Homo sapiens: one gene and its partners. The gene in region 1 interacts genetically with each later gene. Each region holds a gene or a part of one and is shown in the gene's direction. Other genes may lie near its edges. The genes, in order: BCAT2, POMC, ATR, PTK6 and AOC3.

Region 1 (6,281 bases):
CAGGAGTTCAAGACCAGCTTTGCCAACATGGTGAAACCCCATCTCTACTAAATATACAAAAATTAGCTGGGTGTGGTGGCGGGTGCCTGTAATCCCAGGTACTCGGGAGGCTGAGGCAGGAGAATTGCTTGAACCCGGGAGGCGGAGGTTGCAGTGAGCCGAGATTGCGCCACTGCACTCCAGCCTGGGTGGCAGAGTGAGACTCCATCTCAAAAAAAAAAAAAAAAAAAAAAAAGGAATCCAGTACACACGTCCCTTCTTTAGTCACTTGTTTAAGTGCAAATGTATCTAGAGGCTCAATTTCGGGAACTGTAGGTCAAAGGATATGTATGCTTGTAATCTTGATACGTATCGCCACATCTACATCTACAGGGTGTGTCAGTTTCCACACCCACCAGCAGAGCCTGTTTCCATACCTTGGACAACCCTTGTCCAAGTTTTAGATCTTTTCCAATCTCCCATGTGGTTTTAAAGGTATCTCAAACTAATTTTAATTTGCATTTTTCTCCCTAGTGATTAATGAAATTGACTATCTTCTCACGAGCTTAAGGGCCACCTGTATTTCCTTTTGTGTGAACTGTCCATTTGCTAGGCTGATTTTTCTATCAGGTTAGGTTTTAAAAAATTCATCTGGGGCTGGGAAGAAGAGGCAGGGGGATTGCTTGAGCTCAGGAGTTCAAGACCAGCCTGGGCAACATAGTAAGACCCTATCTGTACAAGAAATTGGAAAAAAAAAAAAAGTCCAGTCGTGGTGGCTCACGCCTGTAATCCCAGCACTTTGGGAGGCCGAGGTGGGCGCATCACCTGAGGTCAGGAGTTCAAGACCAGCCTGGCCAACGTGGTGAAACCCCGTCTCTACCAAAAACACAAAAATTAGCCGGGCGTGGTTGTAGGCACCTGTAATCCCAGCTACTTGGGAGGTTGAGGCAAAAGAATTGCTTGAACCTGGGAGGTAGAGGTTGCAGTGAGCCAAGATAGAGCACTTCAGCCTGGGCAACAGAGTGAGACTCCATCTCAAATAAAATAAAAAATAAAATTCCCAATCCAAGATATAAAACAGTTATTTTTGTTTCCTTCTATAGCTTTTATGGTGTAATATATATATATATATTTTGTTTAGACTTTTAATGCACCTGGAATTTTTTCTGGTGTGAGGTGTGAAATAGAGATTCAACGTAGTTTTTCTCTAGATGGATATTTGGTTATCTATTCCATTATTCAGTCTGTCCACTCATATAGCAGTGTCACTCTGTTTTAAGTATTGTAGATTTATAATGTTTTACTACCTGATATGGCTACTCCCTGCCCCTGCCCCATCTTGCCCCTCATTTTTGTGGTGGTGGTTTTTATCCCCCCAAAATATTGTAGCTAGTTTTGCTTGTCTTCCATTCATTTATCTATTCATTCATCAAAAACCCACTATGGGAAAAAAAAAAAAAGTCTGGCTGGGTGCAGTGGCTCACCCCTGTAATCCTAGCACTTTGGGAGGCTGAGGCGGGTGGATCAACTAAAAATACAAAAATTAGCTGGGCGTGGTGGTGGGCGCCTGTAATCCCAGCTACCCAGGAGGCCGAGGCACAAGAATCACTTGGACCTGGGAGGCGGAGGTTGCAATCAGCAGAGATCACGCCACTGCACTCCAGCCTGGGTGACAGAGTGAGACCCTGTCTCAAAACAAAACAAAACAAAACAAAACAAAAAAACACTCTGTGCCAAGCGCTGCCTACCCTGGTGCATGGGACTGCAGGAGAGGCTGTCTGGTAAACGTGTCAAGGGTAATCCCTGCCTTCCAGGCTCTTCCACTCTGCAGTGGAGCAGATGCTGAACAAGCAAACTTGGAACCATGGGGCAGTGATCAGGGACAGAGTCTCCAGAAAAAAAAAACTAGGTCCCAGGCTGGAGTGCAGTGGCATGATCGTGGCTCACTGCAGTCTCAAACTCCCAGGCTCAAGTGATCCTCCCACCACCTTCCAAATACCTGGGACTCCAGTCACGTGCTACCACGTCTGGCTAATTTTCGTATTTTTTGGTAGAGATGGGGTCTTGCTATAATGCCTGGGCTGGTCACGAACTCCTACACTCAAGTGATCCTCCTGCCTCGGCCTCCCAAAGTGCTGGGATTACAGTGAGCCACTGAGCCCGGTCGTGTCCTTTGCTTTCTAGAGTCTCCGTGTGTCTCTACCTGTTTGTCTCCCTGTCTATATCTGTCTCTCTTTTTCTCCATCTCTCTGACCCAGCTGCTAAATCTCCCCGGTGCTCTCCTCTTGGCCTCCATCTTTCAGTTGTCTGTGTCTTTGTGTATCTGTCTCTGTCTGTCTTGGTGTCTCTCATGACTGTCTGGAGAAGTCTCTGAGCCTCCCCACCCGCGTGTCCCCGCAGCTGTTTGAGGGCATGAAGGCGTTCAAAGGCAAAGACCAGCAGGTGCGCCTCTTCCGCCCCTGGCTCAACATGGACCGGATGCTGCGCTCAGCCATGCGCCTGTGCCTGCCGGTGAGGGGTCCCGGTCCACCGGGGTGGGGAGGAGGGCTGGGGCCGGGGCAGCAAGGGCCCCTTGACTCATTCAGAATCCCACCCAGAGTTTCGACAAGCTGGAGTTGCTGGAGTGCATCCGCCGGCTCATCGAAGTGGACAAGGACTGGGTCCCCGATGCCGCCGGCACCAGCCTCTATGTGCGGCCTGTGCTCATTGGGAACGAGGTGGGCCCAACTCCAGGGCTGGGAAGCTGGGCTGCGGGGGTTGGATTCTGCAGGGCAGGGGTGGGGTCCTGGAGGCCTGGGCCTGGGGACGGGAAGGGACTGGGGGCCTGGACTCCTGACGCTGTCCCTTTGCCCGTCGCAGCCCTCGCTGGGTGTCAGCCAGCCCACGCGCGCGCTCCTGTTCGTCATTCTCTGCCCAGTGGGTGCCTACTTCCCTGGAGGCTCCGTGACCCCGGTCTCCCTCCTGGCCGACCCAGCCTTCATCCGGGCCTGGGTGGGCGGGGTCGGCAACTACAAGTTAGGTGGGTAAGTAGCACCCCCATCCCCAGAACGACTGGCGCACTGGGCGTTGGAGACACAGGGACCAGCGTGCGTGCTTTCGGCCATGCCTCTGGATGTCACATGAAGGTGACATCATCAGCACCGTGCAGGGCTCAGTGCTAAGTGACCTCCCTGGTCCCTGAAAACAAACCATGGAAGGAAGGAGGAGGGGATTATTTTTCAGATGGACAAAAAGGCTCACAGATGGGAAGGCATTGGGTGGAGGTCAGTGGGGAAACCAGGACTGGTCCCTGGAAGCCTCCAGGAGTGAAGCTTACACTCAGCTCATTGGCTTCTCGCCCCAGAAGCCTCCCCTGATCCCCCAGGCTGGGCTGCGCTCCCCATACCCAGCTCCCACAGTCGTTTGAGCCTCCAAAGCCCCTCACCCCCGTGTGGACTTTCTGTGTAAATCTGTCTCCCAGTGGCCTCAGCTCAGCAGGGCAGGAAGGAGACAGCTGGGTCTCCTGGGCAACCAAGGCAGAGGGTGGGCACTGGCGTGTTGGGACAGGAATGTGGCCCCAGCTGGGGGTGCATTCAGGTCCTTTCAGCCACATCCTGTGAGGTCTCCTGAGGGCCAGGCCCTGTGCTGGCAGAAGCTGGGGACACAGATGAGTCAGCCCCGAGCCCTGCTCTCCTGGGTCTCCCAGGCTGGTGGGAGCCCCAGTATTCGGAGCTGCATGTTCTCTGGTGAGGTGACCCAGGGCATTGTGAAAGCCTTCACAGAGGCCAGAGGCGGTGGCTCACGCCTGTAATCCCAGCACTTTGGGAGGCTGAGGCGGGCAGATCACGAGGTCAGGAGATCGAGACCATCCTGATTAACACAGTGAAACCCCATCTCTACTAAAAATACAAAAAAAAAAAAAAAAAATTAGCCGGGCTTGGTGGCGGGCGCCTGTAGTCGCAGCTACTCAGGAGGCTGAGGCAGGACAATGGCGAGAACCCAGGAGACAGAGCTTGCAGTGAGCCGAGATCGCGCCACTGCACTCCAGCCTGGGCGACAGAGCGAAACTCCATCTCAAAAAAAAAAAAGAAAGGTTTCGCAGAGGAGGCGACCCTTCAACTAGGTCTGACGAGGAGGGAGGAGGGGGTTTCCTGGGTACAAAAGTCAGCAAACTGTTTCCAGTCCTGGGAACCATGTGTACAGGGACAGAAGGAATAGGATCACAGAAGATGTTCAGGTTACAAAAATAAGTTTGGGTTTTGAAAAATGCTTAGCAAGTATTCATTAGACCCAGGCAGGCCTGGAATGCCGGAAGGAGGCTAGGGTCTTGTCCTGGGGCACTGGGGAGCCATGGGAGGCTTGTTAGCAGCTGAGGGGAGAGGCTATCTCTGGGAGAGAGACTCAGAAAGTCATCCAGGTAGCCCAGTTCACTGGGGGAGTCCAGGGAAGGTCCAGCACCCAGCCTGGAGGTCTGGAAACACCTCTCGAGGAGGTGACAACAGAAACGGTTTTGGAGCCAGGCGCGGTAGCTCACGCTTGTAATCCCAGCACTTTGGGAGGCCGAGGTAGGCGGATCACTTGAGGTCAGGAGTTTGAGACCAGCCTGGCCAACATGGTGAAACCCCGTCTCTACTAAAAATATAAAAAGTAAGGCCGGGCGCTGTGGCTCACTCTTGTAATCCCAGCACTTTGGGGGGCTGAGGCGGGCATATAAATATAAATGTGAATATAAATTAGCCGGACATGGTGCTGCATGCCCCAGTTACTCCAGTTACTCAGGAGGCTGAGGCACGAGAATCGCTTGGACCCGAGAGGCGGAGGTTGCAGTGAGCTGAGATCGCACCACTGCACTCTAGCCTCAGCCTGGGCGACAGAGCAAGACTCTGTCTCAAAAAAAAAAAAAAGAAAAAAAGAAAAAAAGAAATGGTTTTGAATGACAGCTGAGGATTTGGTCAGTATGAAATGGGTGAGGGCTGGGCGCGGTGGCTCACGCCTGTAATCCCAGCACTTTGGGAGGCTGAGGCGGGCAGATCACCAGGTCAAGAGAGGCTGAGGCAGGAGAATCTCTTGAACCTGGGAGGCGGAGGTTGCAGTGAGCCAAGATCGCACCACTGCACTCCAGCCTGGGTGACAGAGCGAGACTCCGTCTTAAAAAAAAAAGAAAAGAAAAGAAAGAAAAGTGGGAAGAGACAGGAGAGAGGGGACATAACCATTTAGGGTCCTGATGCCAAATGAAAAGTCAAGGATTCCATCTCAGGGGAACTGGGGAGCCCTGTGAGAGCTGTGAGCAGGGAGACGGGAGAGAGTAGGATGAGCCTCCTCTGGGGCTGGGCTGGGGAAGGATGGGGCTCCCTTGCCCCACCCAACCAGACTGCCCTCCACCAGGAATTATGGGCCCACCGTGTTAGTGCAACAGGAGGCACTCAAGCGGGGCTGTGAACAGGTCCTCTGGCTGTATGGGCCCGACCACCAGCTCACCGAGGTGGGAACCATGAACATCTTTGTCTACTGGACCCACGAAGATGGGGGTAAGCCCACCCATGACCCAGCCCGAACCCTGGTGGAAGTGGGTGGCACCATCATTCCTGGCAGGTTACAGGCCCCAGGGATTCTGGGATGGGGGAAGGGGGTGGCTCTTAAGACGGCGGTGCTAGGGGGTGAGAGGTAACATCTTCCACCCCTTACACCTGCCCTAGTGCTGGAGCTGGTGACGCCCCCGCTGAATGGTGTTATCCTGCCTGGAGTGGTCAGACAGAGTCTACTGGACATGGCTCAGACCTGGGTGAGGACATGGCATCTTCTGGTGATGGGCGCCATGTGCCAGGGGCCAGGGCATCAGAGGGCTGGGACTGGGGCACACTGGCATGTCTCTGCCCCTTCTCCTGGGTCTGTCTCTCCCGTTGGGCCTCTGTCTTTCTCACTATCCTCAGGGAGGGAGAGGTGGAGGTCTGCAGCAGGGCAACCCTCTGGGGACACGTGTCTCTGCCAACTGCCCTGCAGGGTGAGTTCCGGGTGGTGGAGCGCACGATCACCATGAAGCAGTTGCTGCGGGCCCTGGAGGAGGGCCGCGTGCGGGAAGTCTTTGGCTCGGGCACCGCTTGCCAGGTCTGCCCAGTGCACCGAATCCTGTACAAAGACAGGGTGAGGCGGGGCTGCCATTGTGGGTGGGAGGGAAGGAGGGGAGGGGCTTGGTCCTCACCGCACCTTCTGTCCCAGAACCTCCACATTCCCACCATGGAAAATGGGCCTGAGCTGATCCTCCGCTTCCAGAAGGAGCTGAAGGAGATCCAGGTGAGCTGCAGGGAGCTGGGGAATGGGCTGGG
Region 2 (5,658 bases), on another chromosome or scaffold:
CTATCAGACCTGTAAGATTTTGTTTTTTCCTTTACTAATATGTTACTTTACATTTGCATTTGGTGACATACGTAACTACCATTTTTCTGTGACTGTAACATCTGGGCATTTTTCAGAGCTAAATGTGCTATGGTCAACTTGGAGCTTTAATCTAATTGCCTGGTCCACCAAGTTCTGGCTGTGTACTTGAATAGATCACTGGCAGGGTACAATGGGAACAGCCTGTCCCTTGGAGCCAGGAGAGGACACCAAGGTTGACCAAAGCTCGTTCAGTTGCCCCTTTAGCCGAAGCGCACCTGGGCCAGTCACTGGCTGCCAGTGCCATCTAATGGCTGCTCTGAAAATGCTCAGCCTTGCCCGGCAACCCTTCAGAAGCTAGCACCGTGCAGGCCCAGCGCCTGGGGAATAGGGCGAGGGTGGGGTAGAGAGAAGGAAGTGGCCTCCTGAAGTAGAAATCAGCGCTTCAGAGGACTTTCACTTCCAAAGCCTCCCCTATATAAAAAAGATTTGGCCCACGCCTCCCCAAATGAGAGATTTATTTTAGGCAAACTTATTTTAAAATGCCAGCGTTCATTAGGAGTGACAAGACACTTAGTCATCCACGCTTTAATGTGAATTACTTTTCTCATCTAATTACATTTCTTTCTAGCAGCTGGCTGAGAAGATCTTCTGAAATCCAAAATGATTGTAGGGTTGGCGGTGAGCTGATCTCCGGCCTCGAGGTGGCTTCAGGGGGCCCACCTGGTTAAGGGAAATTTGGCAGTGCGAGGGTAGTGCTGGAGAGAGGGGTGGGTACAGGGGGCTAGGGGCACCATGGATGCCCCCTCCTTACTGTCCCCTGGTGTCTTGACCTCAGCTTCTGCCCACAGGCACTTGCTGGATTCTCCAAAAGTATCTGCAGTGGCTGTTCCACCAGGAGGTAATTCCCTTCTGGTCTCTTTCCCCTCCACATCTGCATCCTCTTCAAATCCTGCCATTTCAGACCACATTTGAGAGCTCTAGAGAACAAGACATCTGACACGTGACGTGTCCAGAAGATGAGCCAGATTTCAAAGAACTGAGATCTGCTTTAAAAACGAAGCTCTCCAAAGTTACTGGAGTCTGGGTAATAGTGATCACCAGAGTAATTTGTGTGCAGGACATCAAATCAGGCTGCTCGAAATGCTGCCTAAATTGGCCAGTGGTTTTATTTGCTTTTCTGTCAACCTAATATTCATAGGAAATAGAGTTTCAGAGGAATGATAGGATCCTGGTGGAATAAAAAGGGAAAAGACCATCTTGAGCAGGAGTTTCAGGGTCCTCCGTTTTTCCCAAGTTACTTTCACTCCTGAGATCTTGCATGTTAGAACTACAGCTTAATGTAGTGAAATAGGAAAGTTCTCTGTTAGGAGCTTAGCCTTACCTTGTCATGGACATTAAAGTAATTGTCTCTCTTTGGGCTTCAATTTTCCCATCTCTCATGGGAAGGGCTGAACCAAGCAATCCCCAAAATAGCTTCCAGCCTTAACCTTTTTAGGGGTCTCGTTTAAATAGAAGATAACAGGGAAATGGTCACAGTTTACCCACCATTCCCTCCTCCTTATCACAACTTATACCACCGCTGTACTGCACACCTCCTTTCTCAGCATTGCTGCTGTCCTTAAAATGCCTTTAACTCCACAAGAGAGTGTGTTGTTAATGTTGGCTCAAGGTCCTTCCTGGTGAGTGGCCAACATTGTTTTGCTCCTTGCAGGGGTCCCACCAATCTTGTTTGCTTCTGCAGAGCCTCAGCCTGCCTGGAAGATGCCGAGATCGTGCTGCAGCCGCTCGGGGGCCCTGTTGCTGGCCTTGCTGCTTCAGGCCTCCATGGAAGTGCGTGGCTGGTGCCTGGAGAGCAGCCAGTGTCAGGACCTCACCACGGAAAGCAACCTGCTGGTACGTGGGCCATGACTGCCATCTTGGCTTAGACATTAGATGGGACTGGAGCTGGGAAAGCTCAAAAGAAAAGGGTGTGGGGAAAGGGAAATTCATTCCCAGTGATAGGCGTGATTCAATCCAGGGCAGGAGCAAAACTTTGCAGTGAAGTAAGAAATGGGAGAAGAAATCAGGGAAGGAAGCAGCTTCAGGGAGAGGGGTTGAGTCCACAATTTCTGCTTGGTTATCCTTACTTCTTGCCCCATCTTTTATGGAGACCTTGAACCCTTTAAGCTAGAGATGGTGCTATAAGAGCAATAATGGACCCCTCAATCTATTCTGTACTTTAAATCTTTAGCTTCCCAAACTATTCCTTTTTAAGAAGCTCATATCACTTGCCATTTTCATTCCATATTTCTTACCCTTTTATCTACTACCGGTTGCAAAACCAGCCAGGTAGTTCTTCAAATCATCTCTGGAAGAAGGAAAAACCAGGGGCCCTTTTTTTTTTTTCTTTAATTGGTGCCAAATGTCTCATGTTTATTCTGGAGGACTGGCCTTCTGCTGTGTTCCTCTACAGTCTTTCCAGAGCATGTGAAGGCCCTTTGCATCAGGCAGGAGCTCCCTCCAGGTCACCACAGGGTGTATGTATCTGCCTGTGGGGGGTGTGTGTGTGTGTGTGTTGGGGGGCATAAATGAGTAATGATGCCAAATCCAGAGATTAAAAGGCACACTGAGACCAGGCGAGATGGCTCATGGCTGTAATCCCAGCACTTTTAGATGCTAAGGTGGGAGGATTGCTTGAGCCCAGGGATTCAAGACAAGCCTGGGCAACATAGTGAGACCTCCACTTCTACAAAAAATAAAAAAGTTAGCCAGATGTGGTGGCATGTGCCTGTAGTCCTAGCTACTTGGGAGGTTCACTTGAGGCCAGGAGTCTGACGACACAGTAAGCTATGATCACACCATTGCACTCCAGTCTGGGTAACAGAATGAGACCTTGTCTCAAAACAAAACAAAATGAAACAAACAAACAAACAAACCCCCATACTGTTAGTGTCAGTGACCGGAATTTTAATCTTGTTGCCATCACCTGGCAGGTGCTGAGGGTGGAATGTACATAACTACATTCTGTGTATTTTGTCAATGCAGAAGCTGAGTTAAGGTGAAGATAGAATGAGGTCCTCAAAGACACAGACCAGTTTTCATGTGTAATATAAAATAGAAACAAAGAGCCCAGGGGATTCTGTGAGTTCCAGTTTGGAAAGACCCAAGAGTCTCTTGACTTGAGACACCCACAGCACAGCTCACCAGGGAGGGTGCACTGGACACAGTCAGGACCCATGGGTTCTAGACCCAGTTTTGAGGTGTGGGACCTTGACCAGGTCCTATCACCTCTCTGAGTCTCCTGTTTCACTATCTGTCCACGGGAGGGGAGTGTAAATTAGTTTTTTCCATTGTTAACGTTCCACAGAGTTGTAATTCTGAACACCTGGAGTAGGCAATGTCCAGCTCAACAGAGTGGGTAGGATCCTTTTATTTTCTCCTTTGCTATTCCCAAGAAAGAGAGCAGCCAGTGAGCTTTTCATCTTTTTATCACTGAAAACTCAAGGCTGCAGCCTATGCAGCCATTTTCCTAAGCTAATATGTACCACAATAGAGTCCTCTAGGGACAAGGAGCAGAGACACAGGTTCCACAGACGGTGCAATGGAAATAACGCTAGCTTTCCACCCCTCCCTCCAGTCAGAATGAGATTACAGGGAAATAAGCTTGCCCCAGAGCTCACTGGGGGATCTCTCAGAAATCAGCTCAGAAGTCGTGAAAGAACCAAGGTGCAGTTTTGGAGGCTTAGTGCAGAGATGGAGCTGGGGTAGGGCATAAAGTAGGTTTTTCATCACTGAGGTAAGGTTGAGGCATTATTTTTTATTTTTTGTTTATTTATTTATTTTTTTGAGACGGAGTCTCGCTCTATCACCCAGGCTGGAGTGCAGTGGCGCGATCTCCCCTCACTGCAAGCTCCACCTCCCAGGTTCACACAGGTTGAGGCATTATTAAAAATATGTTTAAAAATATGGGCCCTAGTAGCCAGACTTCTATCACCTGGAGAGATTATCCCCCAAATTTCAGCCCCACTCCCCTCCTGGACTTGAATTAAACCATATGTATTTATTCAATATTCTTTTTATTTATTTATTTATTTTTTTGAGACGGAGTCTTGCTCTGTTGCCCTGGCTGGAGTGTGGAGTGCAGTGGTGTGATCTTGGCTCACTGCAACCTCTACCTCCCAGGTTCAAGCGGTTCTCCTGCCTCAGGCTCCAGAGTAGCTGGGATTACAGGCGCCCGCCACCACACCCAGCTTATTTATTTATTTATACTAGAGATGGTATTTCACCATAGTTGGCCAGGCTGGTCTTGAACTCCTGACCTCATGTGATCTGCCTGCCTTGGCCTCCCAAAGTGCTGGGATTATAGGTGTGAGCCACCGTGCCCGGCCCTCAATATTCATTAAGTGCCAACAACTACCACCCGTCTGCCTTTCTTGGAGCCACTCCTTTATGTCAGGCATATAACAGTAAGACTTTGGTCCTGTTCACAAAAGCTAGGGGTGGCTAGATGGCTAGACAAACCATGGAATGGGATGGGAAGTGTGTTGCAGTTGCCAGGCAGAAGCATGAAGGGGATGGGACAAAAGAGGCAGTGGCAAGATCTTAGATGCCCACGAGTGCCAAGAAAGCAGGTGGGCAGACCTGCTCTGTAGGGAGGCCTCGACGCTTGACACGCCCGACACTGTGCCCTGTGTCCTCGGCACGTGGCGAGGGCGGCCAGGGCCTAGGCGCAGTGACGGGCGCGGCAGCCGGGCCGGGGTGCGGGGCACGGGCTGCCCTCATGCCCTCGCGTCTTCCCCCAGGAGTGCATCCGGGCCTGCAAGCCCGACCTCTCGGCCGAGACTCCCATGTTCCCGGGAAATGGCGACGAGCAGCCTCTGACCGAGAACCCCCGGAAGTACGTCATGGGCCACTTCCGCTGGGACCGATTCGGCCGCCGCAACAGCAGCAGCAGCGGCAGCAGCGGCGCAGGGCAGAAGCGCGAGGACGTCTCAGCGGGCGAAGACTGCGGCCCGCTGCCTGAGGGCGGCCCCGAGCCCCGCAGCGATGGTGCCAAGCCGGGCCCGCGCGAGGGCAAGCGCTCCTACTCCATGGAGCACTTCCGCTGGGGCAAGCCGGTGGGCAAGAAGCGGCGCCCAGTGAAGGTGTACCCTAACGGCGCCGAGGACGAGTCGGCCGAGGCCTTCCCCCTGGAGTTCAAGAGGGAGCTGACTGGCCAGCGACTCCGGGAGGGAGATGGCCCCGACGGCCCTGCCGATGACGGCGCAGGGGCCCAGGCCGACCTGGAGCACAGCCTGCTGGTGGCGGCCGAGAAGAAGGACGAGGGCCCCTACAGGATGGAGCACTTCCGCTGGGGCAGCCCGCCCAAGGACAAGCGCTACGGCGGTTTCATGACCTCCGAGAAGAGCCAGACGCCCCTGGTGACGCTGTTCAAAAACGCCATCATCAAGAACGCCTACAAGAAGGGCGAGTGAGGGCACAGCGGGGCCCCAGGGCTACCCTCCCCCAGGAGGTCGACCCCAAAGCCCCTTGCTCTCCCCTGCCCTGCTGCCGCCTCCCAGCCTGGGGGGTCGTGGCAGATAATCAGCCTCTTAAAGCTGCCTGTAGTTAGGAAATAAAACCTTTCAAATTTCACATCCACCTCTGACTTTGAATGTA
Region 3 (6,548 bases), on another chromosome or scaffold:
CAGAAAAAGAAAAAAATTCACTCTTTTTCTTTTACCACTATTTGAGATAATAAGTGGGGAAAATGTATGAACATTTTACAGTGCTATATAGAAATAAATTGTGACATATATGAAATATATGCTATTATTTATAAGTAACTGTCTTACTACACCCTAAGTTGTTTTGTCAGAAGTGATGGACTTTGCTAATCACTCACACATAACCCACTGTGAATCCTCTAGGTAGAGTTAATCATTCCCTGCTTTGGGTGTACATGATACTTGCTTTTGATTATTTATTTATTTATTTATTTATTTATTTATTTATTTATTTATTGAGACTGAGTCTCGCTCTGTCGCCCAGGCTGGAGTACAGTGGCGCGATCTCGACTCACTGCAATCTCCGCCTCCCAGATTCAAGCGATTCTCCTGCCTCAGCCTCCTGAGCAGCTGGGACTACAGGCGCCCGCCACCACACCCAGCTGATTTTTGTGTTTTCAGCAGAGATGGGGTTTCACCATGTTAGCCGGGATGGTTTAGATCTACTGACCTCATGATCCGCCTGCCTTAGCCTCCCAAAATGCTCGTATTACAGGCGTGAGCCACCATGCCCGGCCGCTTTTGATTATTTAAGTGCATTCCTCTCCTCTCCCCAGCAACTATTCTGAGTTCTTTGAAGCAGAGGATCTTGTTTTACTTGCCTTTTGAATTTATTAAATTATTTGCGTCTGTACCCATCCATTCTTTCTATGTTTATGAAAGAGTTACCCTCCTGTCCAAGGATTGTCTTTTTACTTATATCTGGTTCCAAGAAGAGGAGTCACATCTCAAGAATTGGTTGCTTAGGTCTTTCCATTATAAGGGAGAAACAAAACAAAGCCCTCTTGATCTCATACAGTTCTTTAGTTATCACCAACTCTACTTCTCTTCATTTCATGATCAAGCTTTGGAAAGAACCCGCTATTCTCAGTATTCACATTTCATTAGATTTTCAGCCCCTTGCAATCTGGCTTCTCTCTTTACTGCTACAGGAAAATTTTAAAAGTCCAAAAGGCATACAAATACCTAAACATAAGAACTAAAACTATGAAACTCTTAGAAGTGAACATAGAGGGGGCCGGGCATGGTGGCTCACACCTATAATCCCAGCACTTTGGGAGGCCAAGATGGGTGGATCACCTGAGGTCAGGAGTTCCAGACTAGCCTGACCAACATGGAGAAACCCTGTCTCTACTAAAAATATACAAAATTAGCCAGGCGTGGTGGTACATGCTTGTAATCGCAGCTACTCAGGAGGCTGAGGCAGGAGAATCGCTTGAACCCAGGAGGCGGAGGTTGCGGTGAGCTGAGATCGCGCCATTGCACTCCAGCCTGGGCAACAAGAGTGAAACTCTGTCTCAAAAAGTAAATAAATAAATAAAAATAAGGGAACATAGAGGGAAAACATTATGACACTGGATTTGGCAATGATTTCTTTGATATGACACAAAGCACAGGCAGCAAAATAAACAGATAAATTGGAATTCATCAAAATTAAAAACTTTGTGCATCAAAGGGCAGTATCAATAGAGTGAAAAGGCAACCCATGGAACTGGAGAAAATATTTGCAAATCATATGTCTGATAAGGAGTTTAATATCTAGAATATATTAAGAACTCCTACAGCTTAACAACAAATATAACCTGATGAAAAACAGAAAAAGAACTTGAATAGACATTTCTCCAAAGAAGATATACAAATGGACAAATAAGCACATGAGAAGATGCTCACAATTACTAATCATTAGGGAGATGCAAATCAAAACCACAGGATACTGTTTCACACCCATTATGATAGCTATTAATAAAAAAACAGTTGGGGCTGGGCATGTTGGCTGATGCCTGTAATCCCAGCACTTTGGGAGGCTGAGGCAGGCGGATCACGAGGTCAGGAGATTGAGACCATCCTGGCCAACATGGTAAAACCCCATCTCTACTAAAATACAAAAAATTAGCCAGGCATGGTGGTGCATGCCTGTAGTACCAGCTACTTGAGAGGCTGAGGCAGGAGAATTGCTTGAACCCGGGAGACAGAGGTTGCAGTGAGTTGAGATCATGCCACTGCACTCCAGCCTGGTGACAGAGCAAGACTCTGTCTCAAAAAAAACCAAAAAACAAAAAAAATCCCACAAAAAAAAAACACAGTTGGGCATGGTGACTCATGCCTACAATCCCAGCACTTTGGGAGGTCAAAGCAGGCAGATCGCTTGAGCCCAGGAGATTGAGACCAGCCTGGGCAACGTGGTGAAACCCTGTCTCTACAAAAAATACAAAAAATTAGCTGGGTGTGGTGACATGCACCTGTGGTGCCAGCTACTCAGGAGGCTGAGGTGGGAGGATCTCCTGAGGCTGGGAGGTTGAGGCTGCAGTGAGTTATGGGTGCACCACTGCACAGTAACCTGGGCAACAGGGTTAGACCCTGTCGCCAAAAGGGGAAAATAAAATAATAATAAAAAAACACCCAGAAAATAACGTGTGTTGGTGAAGATGTGGAGAAATTGGAACCCTTGTCCACTGCAGGTGGGAGTGTACAATGGTACAGCCACTGTGGAAAAGGGTATTAGCGTTCCACCAAAAATTTAGTTTTTATGTGCTTCAGAAGGGAGGAAGTGAATGCTAATTGGTCCATAGGCAGTCATGGGTGGGCCTGGAAAAAGCACCCTAAGTTCTCGCTGTGGTCCGTGTAACTGGCAGCCAGGCTTCCAGGCTTCAAGCTGTTCCTGGCTTGAAGGTGGGTCTTCACTGGGGACCCACCCCTTTCCTCCCAGGAGCCTACTTCCTGCTGCCATCAACCTGCCACCCACTACACCGAGGCTGTTCGTGCCGAGGGGCGCCTGCAGGCCCATATTGAGCTGCCCTCAGCCTACCGCTTGGCCTGCCCAAAGTCCAGAGGGAGATGAGGCAGCAGGGGGCTGGTGTGTCAGTGCCGTCCTGAGCACATGCACACGCGGCCTGGTCCTGACAACACCTGGGCTCCCCCACAACTTTGCTCCGAAATTGGTGTGGGTGCCGGGAGCGGGGAGAGGCCAGGCAGCGGGAGCAGGCATTTCCAAGTCTGTGAGGGCAGGGGGCCTTCCCGGCCCTGGAAAGAGCAGGGATGCCTGGGTTTGCAGCCGTGGTTGGGCGGCTGCAGCTGCACCCAGGATGGCTGGGCTCCCGACCCTGCAACTCGGAAGGGGGCGGGGCTTCCACCTGTCTTGCACCTCAGAAGGGGGCGGGGCTTCTGCCCACTAGCGCCCTGGAGAGAGCAGCCCTAGCACCACCTTCCTCACCGCTCCAACTGGGCTGCCACTGCCATCAATAGCACATTTCAATTTGTACTAATCACATTTCAAGTTCTCCCTAGTTACTTGTAGCTAGTGGCCACCATATTGAGAAGTTCAGGTCTAGGCTTTGCTGATTGGATCTCTTTAGTATTACTTAGCATATTCTTTTTTTTCTTGTAAGTTGGTAACATATTCAGATTTTCTTTTCAATTTTTAAACAGAAGAATACTGTGAATATCAACATTGACACTGAACACATTTGATGAGTTCTACTTTAGAGAAATTTTTTTTGCAAATGAAACTGAGTCACTTTAAGGATTAAAAGCTTTTAATTTGTATTTTAGTGCCACACCAGAGGAATATAATACAGTTGTACAGAAGCCAAGACAAATTCTGTGTCAATTCATTGACCGGATACTTACAGATGTAAATGTTGGTAAGAAACCAATTATTTCTTATATAAACTTTATAAATTAGACTTTTCTTTTCCATGTATAAATTATAGTAGCATTTTCTCCATGTAGTTTTAGATATGGAGTATTTATGATAGTTACTATTTTCAAGCAAGTTATTTGTTAATCAGTATTGCTTATTGCTTGTTACAAAATTTGAATTAGGCTTTTAAAATAATTCTCTTTTCCTGTTTGTTATCTAGATTTTCTACTGCTTGCTATGAGTTCTTTAATATTGGATATTATATGTAAAAATATTTGTCCAGTACCAATCATGTGGACCCTATTTTGGTTAGCTGTTATGCCAGTGGTAGACTAATAGCAAATGCCACCCAAAAAAACCTCTTTAAGTAAGTTACTCTTTAAGTAGGTTCATGCCTGTGCCTATAGGAGATTATAGGATTATGTGAGTTACTGAATCAATTATTGCCTGTTTGTGCCAATCTGCTAGACAGAATATTACCAACCTGGCAAGATGGTGTCACATTTGTCATATCTGTTGAAATTACATGGGAGGGATAATATAAAATGGCATTAGGCTCAGGGTTTATAATTTGGATTCCAAATTTGGCGCAGATTTTATGACTTAGACTAGCCATTAATCCTTTCTTTTTCAATCAGTAAAATGATGGGTTGCTGAAAAATAACAAAGGACTACTGAATACTTACAAGATGTGTTTTTGTATCGTATTCATATTCCCTCCGTTTAGACTACTTGCCCTTCCCCTCTCTGACCAACTCCTCATCTAGGAATCATTTCCTTCACAGTGTCCTCCCAGATACCTGTTTCTCCTTATTCTGGATTAGTGCTGTTACCATATTGTATTATAATTATTAGTTGGTTTGTTTGGCGCCCCACTGGATTGTGAGAACTTTTTTTTAATCCTTAGATTTTAGCATTGCCTGGCATATTATTCCTGAAGTACATGTTTGATAAATAGATGTATGGTAGAGGAATGCATGTGATTTTTAAACATTTAAAATTAGATAAGACTGTAGTGTTGGCTGGGCACGGTGGCTCACGCCTGTAATCCCAACACTTTGGGAGGCCGAGGTGGGTGGATCACCTGAGGTCAGGAGTTTGAGACCAGCCTGGCCAACATGACGAAACCCTGTCTCTACTAAAAATACCAAAATTAGCTGGGTGTGGTGGCACACACCTGTAGTCCTAGCTACTCAGGAGGCTGAGGCAGAAGAATCACTTGTACCCCGGAGGCACAGGTTGCAGTGAGCCAAGATCACACCACTACACTCCAGCCTGGGCAACAGAGTGAGACTGTGTCTCAAAAAAAAAAAAGACTGTAGTGTTTAGCCCCATCAATTTAGCTTGAATGTTGTTGAGTGCTGTGCTGGATATAATTCTGGTCACCAAAGTCTGGTTCCCCACCCCCACCCCACTTTTTGTTTTTTTTTTTTTAATTTTAAGAGACAGAGTCTTGCTTTGTTCCAGGCTGGAGTGCAATAGTGTGATCGTAGCTCACTACTGCCTTGAACTTCTGGGCTCAAGGGAATCCTCCAGCCTCAGCCCCCTGAGTAGCTGGGACTATAGGCACACTACCACTCCCAGCTAATTTTAAGAAAAATTTTTTTTGTAGAGACGGGATCTTGACATCTTATCCAGGCTGGTCTTGAGTTCCTGGGCTCAGGTGATCCGCCCACTTCAGCCTCCCAAAGTACAGGGGTTACAGGAGTGAGGCACCTTGCCTGGCCCACAGTCTGGTTTCTTAACAAAAGGACCATTGTTTAATTTGTCATGACTCTTTAAAATGAATCTTATTGTTTTAGTTGCTGTAGAACTTGTAAAGAAAACTGACTCTCAGCCAACCTCCGTGATGTTGCTTGATTTCATCCAGCATATCATGAAATCCTCCCCACTTATGTTTGTAAATGTGAGTGGAAGCCATGAGGCCAAAGGCAGTTGTATTGGTAAGTGCTGTTATTCATGCATTCACTTGCCATCTGTTCTATAAAATCCTCCTTTTACTGCTCTTCTGAAATATTACATGTACAGGATTATACTTTTTTGGGTCAGCTTTGCTATAAATTGAAGGAGCAAAATGGTAATGGTTATTTTTCCTTCACATATCCTTATTGTTTTCTTTTTAGTATTGTATACTAGGTACTTAGAAATAATCAAATTTGTTTATTTGCCATTGAACACTTTGGCATGGTTTTCTTTTTTCTGTTTTTGGTAATCTCTTTCTTCTAGATCAGAGCTTGGCAAGCTGTAGTCCACAGGGTGGCTGCCTGTTTTTGTGAACAAAGTTTTGGTGTTTTGTTTTGTTTCCTTTTTTTTTTTTTTTTTTTTTTTTTAAATAAGACAGGGTCTCGCTATGTTGCCCAGGCTGGTCTTGAACTGGTAGACTCAAGGGATCCTCCTGCCTCAGCCTCCTGCATACCTGGGACCATAGGCACATGCTACTGTGCCTGGCTTCAGTTTTTGTAAACAAAGTTTTATTAGAACACAGCCATGCTCATTCTTTTACTTATTGTCTGTGACTACTACAAAGGCAACTTGGGCACTCAAGCCAAAAATATTACTATCTGGTCCTTTAAAAAAAGTTTGCTGACCGCTATTCTATATATTGAAGCTTTTCTCTAGGCTTATTCTTTATTGCACCTACTACTTTTGTCCCTTCATTGGTGTCTTCATAAAGAGATGCAAAATAAACATTTTTTTTGTATAATGGATAAAGTATTTTAAAATTTTTTGTTCAAACTTTAACTCAACTTTGATAGCATGTCCTCCAAGAAGTTTTTTTCTGAGCACTACTTCTAACTGCTTAGAACTGGCTTGGTTATTCCTTTATTCT
Region 4 (6,486 bases), on another chromosome or scaffold:
GAAAGCCATTAAAATAGATCACTGGAAATGGGTAAAACTTCCCTGGAACCCGTCTGGGCCCCAGCAGAGGTCTGGCCTCTATGTCAGAGGTCTGGGCCGGGCACAGGAAGAAATCGGGTGGCCACCACAGCCCCGTGGGTACGCCAGGCTGGGGCCCTGTGGGGCCGGCTGCATCTGCCATTTCGTGGCCTCGGGAGCCAGGTGCCCTGTCGGGGGCAGGAGGTCTGTGTGTCCTGCACAGCTGCTGGGTGTGATGGCTGCTGTGTGTGGGGGCAGGGCCTTGGCCTCTTCCTTGGGGCCTGGGGGGTCAGGGGCTGCATCCACCGAGGCCACCCGTCCCCGCAGACAACCTCCTGCACCAGCAGATGCTGCAGTCGGAGATCCAGGCCATGAAGAAGCTGCGGCACAAACACATCCTGGCGCTGTACGCCGTGGTGTCCGTGGGGGACCCCGTGTACATCATCACGGAGCTCATGGCCAAGGGCAGCCTGCTGGAGCTGCTCCGCGGTGAGTGGCATGGGCCGGGGCTCTTGCTGGAGGCAGCGGGGGCACGTGAGGAAATAAAGTGCACACCCCCCCCCCACGTCTACACACACACACACGTAGACACACAGACACACAGACACACACATGCACACACAGACACAGACACAGACACACAGAGACACACACGCACAGACACACATGCACACACACATGCACACAGACATACACATGCACACACAGACACACACACAAGACACATCACATGACACACACAGACATACACATAGACACAGACACACACACAGAGACACACAAAACAGATCACACGGACACACACAGACACACACACAGATCACACGGACACACACAGACACACACACACACAGACACACACTGATCCAGACACACACACAGACACACACAGATCACATTGGCTCAAAGACTTCATCCTCTCTAAGTTCCATTATTTCCTTTCTCACCAAAACCAAAGACAATCGCTGCCAGGGAATGGAGATGCCCGTGCGTGAAGGCGCAGTTTGGATTCCGATGTTAGAATGGGAGGGAACGTTGTGGTATAGGAAAAATGCCGTGTGTGTCTGAGGAGAGCTACACTGAGGCACCACGCACGTTTGCGCTCTGAGCGAAAGGCTCCGTACCCCTCGCCCTCACACAAAGGGCTTGATCATCTCAGACAGTCCCCACGCCCTTCAGGGTCCTCCGGGAGGGAATGTGGGGTAAAACAGGCACCACCAGGCCGCAAGCCGCTGACAGCCATTCTCCTGTTCGAGTTCCCACTGCCTACATCACGCAGTCATGAGCCTCTTCGCTGGTCCTTCTGCGTCCAGCTCCTCCCGCGTCATCACAAACTTCCAGAAGGGAAATCGCTGGGCTAGACCACTAGGAACTGCTCCTTGGTTCTTTTTTTTTTTTTTGAGACGGAGTCTCACTCTGTCGCCCAGGCTGGAGTGCAATGGCGCAGTCTCGGCTCACTGTAACCTCCACCTCCTGGGTTCAAATGATTCTCCTGCCTCAGCCACCTGAGTAGCTGAGATTACAGGCACCTGTCACCACGCCCAGCTAATTATATATATATATATATATATATATATTTTTTTTTTTTTTTTTTGAGACGGAGTCTGGCTCTGTCGCCCAGGCTGGAGTGCAGTGGCGTGATCTCGGCTCACTGCAAGCTCCGCCTCCCGGGTTCACGCCATTCTCCTGCCTCAGCCTCCCGAGTAGCTGGGACTACAGGCGCCCGCCACCACGCCCGGCTAATTTTTTGTATTTTTAGTAGAGATGGGGTTTCACCGTGTTAGCCAGGATGGTCTCGATCTCCTGACCTCGTGATCCATCCGCCTCAGCCTCTCAAAGTGCTGGGATTACAGGCGTGAGCCACCACGCCCAGCTTGCTCCTTGGTTCGTGATAAACAGTTGCCTTCCAGAAGGGCGGTAGCTGGCCTGCAGTTCCAATTTTCAATCAGGCCAGCTGCCCTTTGCCCCGGCCCCTCCTCTGAGCCCGCAGAGCTTGGAGGCAGATGAGACATGGCCCAGCCTCCCCAACCCTTCCCCACCTCAGCTGGCTCAGCTGACCCCAGGCTCTGCTCCACTCCCCTCTGCAGACTCTGATGAGAAAGTCCTGCCCGTTTCGGAGCTGCTGGACATCGCCTGGCAGGTGGCTGAGGGCATGTGTTACCTGGAGTCGCAGAATTACATCCACCGGGACCTGGCCGCCAGGAACATCCTCGTCGGGGAAAACACCCTCTGCAAAGTTGGGGACTTCGGGTTAGCCAGGCTTATCAAGGTAGGGCCCTCAGAGGGCGTGGCTGGGGTCGTGGCCGGGGCGTGGCCGGAGGGCTGGGGGCTTCCTGTGTGTGGAGCTGGGGACTCGGCTGGGAGCAGGATGCGGCCCCTGCCCTCGGGAGCCCAGGCTGGGCAGGGAGGTGGGAAGCCACCGTGAGTCCGGTGGGGCCCCCATTCTGAATGGCACGCACAGCAGGGCCCACCACGCAGCCGCTGCCTTGTTCACGTGCCTTGTTCACTGGCCCAGCCCTGGGCCCCTCTGACGGCCTGGGAGCCTCCCAGTTCCCTGTCCCCCGGGCCCTCCGGTCCCCACACACCTGCAATCCCAGGGGAAGTTGGGCTCCTGAAGGTGGTCAGGCCCCAGTGTGGCCTTAGCTGCAGCGGCCGTGCGTGGGTCAGACAGTGGGGTCATCACCGTCCCACTGCTGGGGCAATGCGGCCGCTGTGCCCGTCCATGCTTCGGGGGCAGGGCACAGGCAGCCCCCACGGCCCACTCAGCTCCAGGCTGATTGCAGGAGGACGTCTACCTCTCCCATGACCACAATATCCCCTACAAGTGGACGGCCCCTGAAGCGCTCTCCCGAGGCCATTACTCCACCAAATCCGACGTCTGGTCCTTTGGGATTCTCCTGCATGAGATGTTCAGCAGGGGTCAGGTGCCCTACCCAGGTACTGTCCCCACTGTCCCTGACTGGGCATGAGAGGCAGAGTGGGGGAGGTCCTGGGTAGCCGGCAGGGACGCTGGGGGGTGCCTCCCCCACGGGCTTCAGGGCCCTCCGCGGGCCATCGCCTGAACTCCACACCTGCACCATTCTCTGAGCACCCAGGCTGGTGCCTGGAGCTGCCTGTTGGAGCCCTGTCCAGAGGGAGGTGTTAGCAGTGGACAGTGTGCTGGGTGGCGCCAAGGCATGGCAGCTGAGGCTGCGGGGAAGGCCCCAGGAAGGGGCAGTGGATGGCTGGTGTGGCTTCTTGGGGGAGGGTAGGCAGGTGGGCCCCAGCTCTTCTCATCCCTGTCGGCCGCAGGCATGTCCAACCATGAGGCCTTCCTGAGGGTGGACGCCGGCTACCGCATGCCCTGCCCTCTGGAGTGCCCGCCCAGCGTGCACAAGCTGATGCTGACATGCTGGTGCAGGGACCCCGAGCAGAGACCCTGCTTCAAGGCCCTGCGGGAGAGGCTCTCCAGCTTCACCAGCTACGAGAACCCGACCTGAGCTGCTGTGGAGCGGGCATGGCCGGGCCCTGCTGAGGAGGGGCCTGGGCAGAGGGCCTGGACCTGGGATCAAGGCCCACGCGCTTCCCTGGGGTTTACTGAGGTGATGGGTGCAGGAAAGGTTCACAAATGTGGAGTGTCTGCGTCCAATACACGCGTGTGCTCCTCTCCTTACTCCATCGTGTGTGCCTTGGGTCTCAGCTGCTGACACGCAGCCTGCTCTGGAGCCTGCAGATGAGATCCGGGAGACTGACACGAAGCCAGCAGAGGTCAGAGGGGACTCTGACCACAGCCCGCTCTCTGGCTGTCTGTCTGCAGTGCCCGGCTGAGGGTGGGAGGCAAACACGCCTTGTTCCTGCTCTTCCCAGTTCAGCTTGGTGGGAGAAAGTCATTCGCGTGGCTCGGGACGCTCATGTAAATTTGGTTTTGGTGCTCAAGGGTTCTTTCCTCCCAGGGGCAGGTGTTTCTTTCCTGTTTGTCTTGTGTCTTGAGAGCTTGGCCTTATGACCAGTGAGAACTCTCTCCCTGGTCTCTGCCAGCCCAAGCATCACTGCCCGAGGCGCCAGCTCAGTTTCACCGTCCACGTCCACAAGGGGCTTTTCCCACCTTCACCTTTGTCGCTGGGTCAGTGCTGGAAAGCGCCCCTCACTCCTGCGCTGACAAGGGCCCTTCTCTACTGTCTGTGGGGTGGTTCCGGGCTGGGGGGGCTGCCTCCTTTGCACCTGATTTTGAAGGTGTCTCTTTCATCCATGGTTAAGTCATAAAAAGCTTATTGGTTTTGGTTTTGACTCACCTGAAAGTTTTTTTGGTTTAAAAGAAGAATAGGCGGGGCACGGTGGCTCATGCCTGTAATCCCAGCACTTTGGGAGGCTGAGGCAGGTGGATCACGAGGTCAGGAGATCGACACCATCCTGGCTAACACGGTGAAACCCCGTCTCTACTAAAAAATACAAAAAATTAGCTGGGTGTGGTGGTGGGGGTGGGCGCCTGTAGTCCCAGCTACGTGGGAGGCTGAGGCAGCAGACTGGTGTGAACCCGGGAGGTGGAGCTTGCAGTGAGCCGAGATCGCGCCACTGCACTCCAGCCTGGGCGACAGAGCGAGACTCCATCTCAAAAAAAAAAAAAAAAAAAAGAAAGAAAGAAAAATAATTTTGGGAGTTTCTGGAAAGGTACTAGGATTTCTCAAAAGGATTTGTCTTCTGCCTTGTGAAAGACAGATGTCAGACTAATCAGGCTTATCCGATGTGCTACATGAGATGGAAAGCGTGTGAAATAGTAAGTCACACTAAGTCTTCTGGAGGTTCTATTTACGGGTTTGGTTTTGATATGAATGTTGCAGAAACTCTATAAAATTCCTAGAAATCTGATACGTTATCCTATGATATATATCCTATCTCACATGCTATTCCTAGAAATCTGGTGCAATGTTATCAGTCATAATTTTGGTTATTACATTAAAATGCTGCATGCCACAGAAATAACCAAGTTTCCTTGCCAACCGTGTCACGAATATAATAAACTCTCATCAGATCCTGAGCCATGGCTATCTTAAGTCTTCGGTCATTCACAGTTATTATCTTACTTTGATTTTTTCTGAAAGCTTTGCAATCAGCTAGTCCCAAATTGTTTATTCTTCAAAGAGATTCCTGGGAAGGATTCTGACAGGTGCTCTGGAGCACAGGTTTCTGGTTCAGGTCATAGCCTTGGATTGGGTGCAAATTTCCAGAACTCGAAGGAGGGACCTGGCAGGTCCATGAAAGTTCTGTCCCAGGATCAACCAGAACAAGAATTAATGACATGGGAATGAATGAACTGACGAGGATGTTTACTGTTTAATGACTTTTGTCTGAAGCATTACGGTTCTTTAATATTTTGTTTTCCAGATGTAAGAAAACGTTTTTTGTTTCTGTTTTTGTTTTTGAAGACAGGGTCTTGCTCTGTCACCCAGGCTGGAGCGCAGTGGCGTGACCACAGCTCATTGCAGCCTTGAATTCCCAGGCTCAAGTGATCCTCCCGCCTCAGCCTCCTGAATAGTTGGGACTACAGGAATGCACCACCACACCTGGCTAATTTTAAATTTTTTTTTTTTTAGGAGATTCAGGGTCTTGCTATGTTGCCCAGGCTGGTCTCGAACTCCTGGGCTCTAGCAATCCTCCTGCCTCGGGACTACAGGCCTGAGCTGCTGCGCCCAGCCTGGGCACGAAAGCCGTCTGTACGAGAGTTGCTGGGGAAATTTCTCTGAAGTCTGTATCAAGTGGGGCAGCTTCAGCTTACAGGGCTTTGGGAAAAGAGCAGTTTTAATTTTCAGTGACTCCATGAGGAATGGTGGAAGAAAAAATTGGAAAGAGTGGTTTGGTGAGCTGTAGGCAAATATTGGAGGAAACTGAAGTTCAGGACCCGGTCCGGACCACAGGTGGGCGACAAAACCTCCAGACAGCAAACCGGGCTAGAGTCTAATAGTGGGGGCACGAGTTTTATTTTGAAACATAATTTTTCTCTCTACAGTCAACAAATTTCTTTTTCTTTTTTTTTTTTTGAGATAGAGTTTCGCTCTTATTGCACAGGCTGGAGTGCAATGGCTTGATCTCGGCTCACGGCAACCTCTGCCTCCCGGGTTCAAGTGATTCTCCTGCCTCAGCCTCCCGAGTAGCTGGGATTACAGGCATGCGCCACCACGCCCAGCTAATTTTTGTACTTTCAGTAGAGATGGGGTTTCTTCACGTTGGTCAGGTTGGTCTCGAACTCCCGACCTCAGGTGATCCACCCACCTCGGCCTCCCAAAATGCTGGGATTACAGGTGTGAGCCACCGCACCCAGCCAACAAATTTCCTTCTTCCTTTTTTTTTTTGAGATGGAGTCTCGCTCTGTCGCCCAGGCTGGAGTGCAATGGCGCAATATTGGCTCACTGCAACCTCTGCCTCTCGGGTTCAAGTGATTCTCCTGCCTCAGCCTCCCAAGTCTCTGGGATTACAGGTGCCTGCTACCACGCC
Region 5 (5,261 bases), on another chromosome or scaffold:
CCAAAGGTTTTTCTAGTTATCCAAAGAAACCATGATGGGCACATTTTCCCCTTGGAGGCTAAAGCCCAGGAGTGAGAACTCTCTTCTGTTTTGGATGGGAGAGGGGTTGTACTGTTAAATGGCTGGGGATAAACAGGAGGACTTGACCCCCCTTAGGGTGACGTCGGGGATTCTGTAGCGCCGAGTCAGTTGTGTGACTGCAATTGGGGAAGCTGAGCTCTGAGCACTCAGTTCCCTTTCATCATAATCAGGCAGCAGGATGGGGTCAATGGCCATGGAGGCCTGACCAGTGCCTCCCTAGGTACCAGCTGGCTGTGACCCAGCGGAAGGAGGAGGAGCCCAGTAGCAGCAGCGTTTTCAATCAGAATGACCCTTGGGCCCCCACTGTGGATTTCAGTGACTTCATCAACAATGAGACCATTGCTGGAAAGGTCAGCTGGCCGGGGTAGAGGGTACAGGATGAGCCTTGCTTTCTCTTGGGAGGGTCCCTGAAAACCACCTGCACTTCTCAGGGGTGGTGCTGATTCCTGCCTTCTGCACTTCAGTATATCTGATCATTATCCTTTGAGGGAACCTTCCTGAGCTGGGTGTCCATATGCAGACACTGAGTGAGGCCCTGGGCCTGTCCTTGAGATCTTAGAGCCCTCTTAGTTCCAGTTTCATGGACTGAGTCCTTTCCAGGCTCCAGGACTCAGGAGGGATGGAAGTTACCAGGGAAAATGACATCTCCTGTATCTGAAGCTTCTCCCATTCCTGACTTGATGAATTTCACAATGTTGGCCTGGTTCTGCTTCCCAAGCGCTGGTTCTTTTTCCTCCACCCTTCTTTCCTCAGTTGTGGGGAACTCTTGGAGAGTTAGGGGAAGAGGAGCTGAAGTAGCCTGTGGGTGTCACCCTCTGGGGGTAGATAGGCAATGGGCGATATGATGGGAAATGTCAGAGATGGAGGCTGCAAGCCAGGGACAGGGAAGCAGGTGTTCCTAATATGAAATGGACTACTTATGCTTTGACTCCTACCCAGCAGGAAAAAATGTTTAAAGACTCATGATCCTTGGGCTGGTGAGCTGAATCCCTACCAGGGCATGTCCTCAGCAAAGCCAGACCTCGTGATCCTCTTTCTTCTCCCCTGCTAGGATTTGGTGGCCTGGGTGACAGCTGGTTTTCTGCATATCCCACATGCAGAGGACATTCCTAACACAGTGACTGTGGGGAACGGCGTGGGCTTCTTCCTCCGACCCTATAACTTCTTTGACGAAGACCCCTCCTTCTACTCTGCCGACTCCATCTACTTCCGAGGGGACCAGGATGCTGGGGCCTGCGAGGTCAACCCCCTAGCTTGCCTGCCCCAGGCTGCTGCCTGTGCCCCCGACCTCCCTGCCTTCTCCCACGGGGGCTTCTCTCACAACTAGGCGGTCCTGGGATGGGGCATGTGGCCAAGGGCTCCAGGGCCAGGGTGTGAGGGATGGGGAGCAGCTGGGCACTGGGCCGGCAGCCTGGTTCCCTCTTTCCTGTGCCAGGACTCTCTTTCTTCCACTACCCTCCCTCGCATCCGCCTCTGAGCCAGGAGCCTCCTGACCCTGTGATGCCTGACACAGGGGACACTGAACCTTGTTGATGCCAGCTGTACTGAGTTCTCATCCACAGAGGCCAGGCATGGCCCAGCCTGGAGCCGTGGCCGAGGGCTTCCCTAGATGGTTCCCTTTGTTGCTGTCTGGCTTTCCCGAATCTTTTTAGGCCACCTCCAAGGACTCTAAAAGGGGGCTATTCCCTGGAGACCCCAGAGTAGGGTTGCCAGTCCTGCAAGTCCATAGCTGAGCTGGAAAGGATGCTTCTGCTCACATTCCCTCTCATCCAGGTCCTTTCCTTCTCGTCTTCCTCTCTCTCACCTACTTCCTCCTCCTCCTCCTGTTCCTGCCTTCTCTTCTATCCTGCAATTTCTCCCGAATCCTGAGGGGATATCCCTATGTCCCAGCCCCTGGTACTCCCCCAGCCCTCAGTTTTCAGTCAAGTTCCGTCTCCTCTCCAGCCCTATGGAAGTCTCAAGGTCACGGGACCCCTAATCAGAGTGGCCAATCCCTGTGTGTCGTTCCCTTGTGTCTGTTGCTTATTGGGAGTAGGAGTTGCTCCTACCCCTGTCCTGGGGCTGGGTGTGTTTCAGGACAGCTGCTTCTGTGCATTTGTGTCTGCCTGCCTCATGCTCTCTATAGAGGAGGATGGTCATCGTGACAGCAGCAGCTCAAGTTAGCATTTCAAGTGATTTGGGGGTGCAATGATAATGAAGAATGGCCATTTTGTACCAGGGCTCTGTATTCTGCAACAGCCTGTTTGGGAGGCTGGAGTGGAAACAAAGGGTGGGCATCAAAGATGAGAAGCCAAAGCCCCTACAACTCCAGCCACCCAGCCAGGAGGGGCTGTCCAATCACATTCAGGCATGCGAATGAGCTGGGCCCTGGGTGAGGTGGGGGTCTGGCCTAGTGGGGAGGGGCCTGGCCTGGGTGGGGCAGGGCCTGGCCTGGTCCAGGCTTGGGCTCCATTCCCATCACTGCTGTCCCTCCTGAGGTCTGGATTGGGGATGGGGACAAAGAAATAGCAAGAGATGAGAAACAACAGAAACTTTTTTCTCTAAAGGACTGGTTAAATCAATTCTGATACAGCCTTACAATACAATAGTATGCAGCTAAAAAATAATTGTATGTCTTTATATACTAATATGTAATAATCTTCAGGTGAAAAAGGCAAGCCACAGAAATGTGTATAGCGCACTTCCCATTTGTGTTTCAGAAAGGAGTAGAATATAAACACATAATTGCTTATGTATGCCTATTCAGAATAAATGGGTAACACTGATTACTTTTGGGAGGGGAACCAGTAGGTTGAGGACAGGAGAGGGAAGGGTCTTAACACTTACACCCTTTTGTACATTTTGAATTTTGAACCATGTGACTGTATTACCTATTCAAAATAAACAATAAATGGGCCCAAACAGGAATTGACTTTTTTTTTTTACTGACACTTTTTTTTTTGGTGGGGAACAGGTTGGGGGTAGGGTAAAGTGGGTTAAGGAATGGGACCAGGGATGAAATTTTCTCCAGTTCTTGAGATCCAGAGAAGCAGGTGTGGCCTCTAGTAACTCCTTTTGCCTTCTCATGCTTGTACATCTTTGAGGAAATGTTAAACCTCGGTTAATTCCCTGACACACACACACCCCACCCTTTCCCTCTCTCCTGTCTTCTCTCTCTCTCAATGAGGGGCAATGAGAAGCAGTGAGGAGGGGTGACTTCTGCTTGCCAGAAGCCCAGGCCAGGGCAGGAGGTAAAGTGCAGGAAACATTCTGGATGCCACTCAGCTTCTGACCAGAAAAAGACCAGAATATGTTCTGGGAGCTCCAGCATCATGGAAGCTTCTGCTACCTTCTGTTCTGCCCCAAGCCCAAGTTCTGCCGTAGGTCAGTGGAACAATGGATGGGGAGGAATCAATGAGCTGGAGAGAAATTAGGCTCTAAAGAACAGGAAGAAAGCCTTCAGTAAGGAGCAGGGGGCCTTCAATGGCATAGTAATTCATAATATGGCCAGGAGTGGAGGCAGGAGTGAAGGAGGACAGGGAGAGATGGAGAGAAGGGCAGACTCAAGACAGAGATGCAGGAGAAAGGGGGATGCTGTGGCCTGCTGGGACACTGATGCAGGCTTCATAATCCCTCTGACCTGAGGACTTGAACTTTCTTTTTTTTTTAATTTTTAATTTTTGAGATGGAGATTCACTCTTGTCACCCAGACTGGAGTGCAATGGCACGCTCTCGGCTCACTGCAACCTCCATCTCCCGGGTTCAAGCGATTCTCCTGTCTCAGCCTCCTGAGTAGCTGGGATTACAGGTGCTGCCACCACGCCCGGCTAATTTTGTATTTTTAGTAGAGACGGGGTTTCACTATGTTGGCCAGGCTGGTCTCGAACTCCTGACCTAAGGTGATCTGCCTGCCTTGGCCTCCCAAAGTGTTGAGATTACAGGTGTGAGCCACTGCACCCGGCCTGAACTTCTCATTTCAATGCATATCCTCTTGTCCCCACCTCCTTACGGCTCTTTCTTATGGCTACTTGCACCATCATCAGTGCTGGGGGAAGGGGAGCAAAGGAATTCAGATATCCACCCCCGCACCCTCACCATCTTGTTCACTGGAATTTAGTTGCCTTGAAACCCATCTCCAGACCAAAGTGTTTGTATGTGTTGTGTGTGTAGTTGTATGTCAATTCTCACAAGCTTTTATATGAAAACGTGACTGGTTGTGTCTGCTTCCTTATATCTCAGCATGGTGATGATGCCACCTGCCCCAGGCCCCAGATGAGGGGAGGCAGAATGGACATCTAGATTGTTAGAACATCAGTTCAGCTCGGGTCAGGAGGGCCGCAAGGTGGACCTCCAGCCCCACACCCCAATCCAATCTCTTCCTTAGACCACAGAAGTTGTCTGGAGTCTTGGCTTCAGACTTGTGGTCAATTGTCTAGGAGTGATTACTGGCTGAGGATGTCAGGTTCTGAAGGAACTGGTGCTGCCAAGGCTCAGATCTTCAGGACTTGGGGCCCAGTGGCCTGAGATAAAGGAGTTGGACAAGGGAATCCCTGAGGCTTGGGTCAGAGGGCATGACTAGGACTTCTCCAGGAATGTGAACATGGCAACCCCCTGTGAGGACATGAGGTGTGCCCACTCGCCTCACCTCTTTTATTTTTTTTATTTTGAGATGGAATTTCACTCTTGTCGCCCAGGCTGGCGTGCAATGGCATGATCTTGGCTCACTGCAACCTCCACTTCCCGGGTTCAAGTGATTCTCCTGCCTTAGACTCCTGAGTAGCTGGTATTACAGGCACCTGCCACTACGCCCGGCTAATTTTGTAGTTTTAGTAGAGACGGGGTTTCACCATGTTGGCCAGGTTGGTCTCGAACTCCTGACCTCAAGTGATCCGCCTGCCTTGGCCTCTCAAAGTGCTGGGATTACAGGTGTGAGCCACAGCACCCGGCCCCCAGTGACTTCTTAAACACAAAATCAACAGGAGCTCCTGGCCGCCTACTTTCTGGACCTCTCGGTGGCGTTTGACAACACCAACTGTCCTCCCTCTTGGAACCCTCTCCCATCTTGACTCTCCCACATTGTCCCCTTTTCATCCATATTTGCTCCTTCTCAGTCTTCTCAGGCTCCTTGACTTCTGCTCCCCCTACCTACTCATGGAGCCCCAAGCTCTTGCCTTTTCTAGGGTTCTGTCCTTGGTCCTCCT

The links.
Region 2: changes in BCAT2 (region 1) and POMC together harm fitness more than expected from each alone (negative genetic interaction), as found in Homo sapiens cells (one large-scale study listed by BioGRID).
Region 3: changes in BCAT2 (region 1) and ATR together harm fitness less than expected from each alone (positive genetic interaction), as found in Homo sapiens cells (one large-scale study listed by BioGRID).
Region 4: changes in BCAT2 (region 1) and PTK6 together harm fitness more than expected from each alone (negative genetic interaction), as found in Homo sapiens cells (one large-scale study listed by BioGRID).
Region 5: changes in BCAT2 (region 1) and AOC3 together harm fitness more than expected from each alone (negative genetic interaction), as found in Homo sapiens cells (one large-scale study listed by BioGRID).

The regions. Positions count from the first base shown.
Region 1 is NC_000019.10:48,796,396-48,802,676, reverse strand, and holds part of BCAT2 (branched-chain-amino-acid aminotransferase, mitochondrial isoform a precursor), read left to right. Parts: intron 1-2,379; coding exon 2,380-2,490; intron 2,491-2,576; coding exon 2,577-2,696; intron 2,697-2,838; coding exon 2,839-3,002; intron 3,003-5,343; coding exon 5,344-5,486; intron 5,487-5,654; coding exon 5,655-5,740; intron 5,741-5,958; coding exon 5,959-6,099; intron 6,100-6,174; coding exon 6,175-6,249; intron 6,250-6,281. UniProt on the Homo sapiens protein: Catalyzes the first reaction in the catabolism of the essential branched chain amino acids leucine, isoleucine, and valine. May also function as a transporter of branched chain alpha-keto acids.
Region 2 is NC_000002.12:25,160,897-25,166,554, reverse strand, and holds part of POMC (pro-opiomelanocortin preproprotein), read left to right. Parts: intron 1-869; exon of another isoform or gene 870-919; intron 920-1,732; exon of another isoform or gene 1,733-1,762; 5' UTR 1,763-1,782; coding exon 1,783-1,914; intron 1,915-4,802; coding exon 4,803-5,474; 3' UTR 5,475-5,658.
Region 3 is NC_000003.12:142,565,234-142,571,781, reverse strand, and holds part of ATR (serine/threonine-protein kinase ATR), read left to right. Parts: intron 1-3,627; coding exon 3,628-3,719; intron 3,720-5,520; coding exon 5,521-5,661; intron 5,662-6,548. UniProt on the Homo sapiens protein: Serine/threonine protein kinase which activates checkpoint signaling upon genotoxic stresses such as ionizing radiation (IR), ultraviolet light (UV), or DNA replication stalling, thereby acting as a DNA damage sensor.
Region 4 is NC_000020.11:63,526,547-63,533,032, reverse strand, and holds the end of PTK6 (protein-tyrosine kinase 6), read left to right. Parts: intron 1-345; coding exon 346-507; intron 508-2,105; coding exon 2,106-2,287; intron 2,288-2,801; coding exon 2,802-2,955; intron 2,956-3,309; coding exon 3,310-3,497; 3' UTR 3,498-5,032; downstream 5,033-6,486. UniProt on the Homo sapiens protein: Non-receptor tyrosine-protein kinase implicated in the regulation of a variety of signaling pathways that control the differentiation and maintenance of normal epithelia, as well as tumor growth.
Region 5 is NC_000017.11:42,855,143-42,860,403, forward strand, and holds the end of AOC3 (amine oxidase [copper-containing] 3), read left to right. Parts: intron 1-251; coding exon of another isoform or gene 252-301; coding exon 302-431; intron 432-1,132; coding exon 1,133-1,408; 3' UTR 1,409-2,982; downstream 2,983-5,261. UniProt on the Homo sapiens protein: Catalyzes the oxidative deamination of primary amines to the corresponding aldehydes with the concomitant production of hydrogen peroxide and ammonia. Has a preference for the primary monoamines methylamine and benzylamine.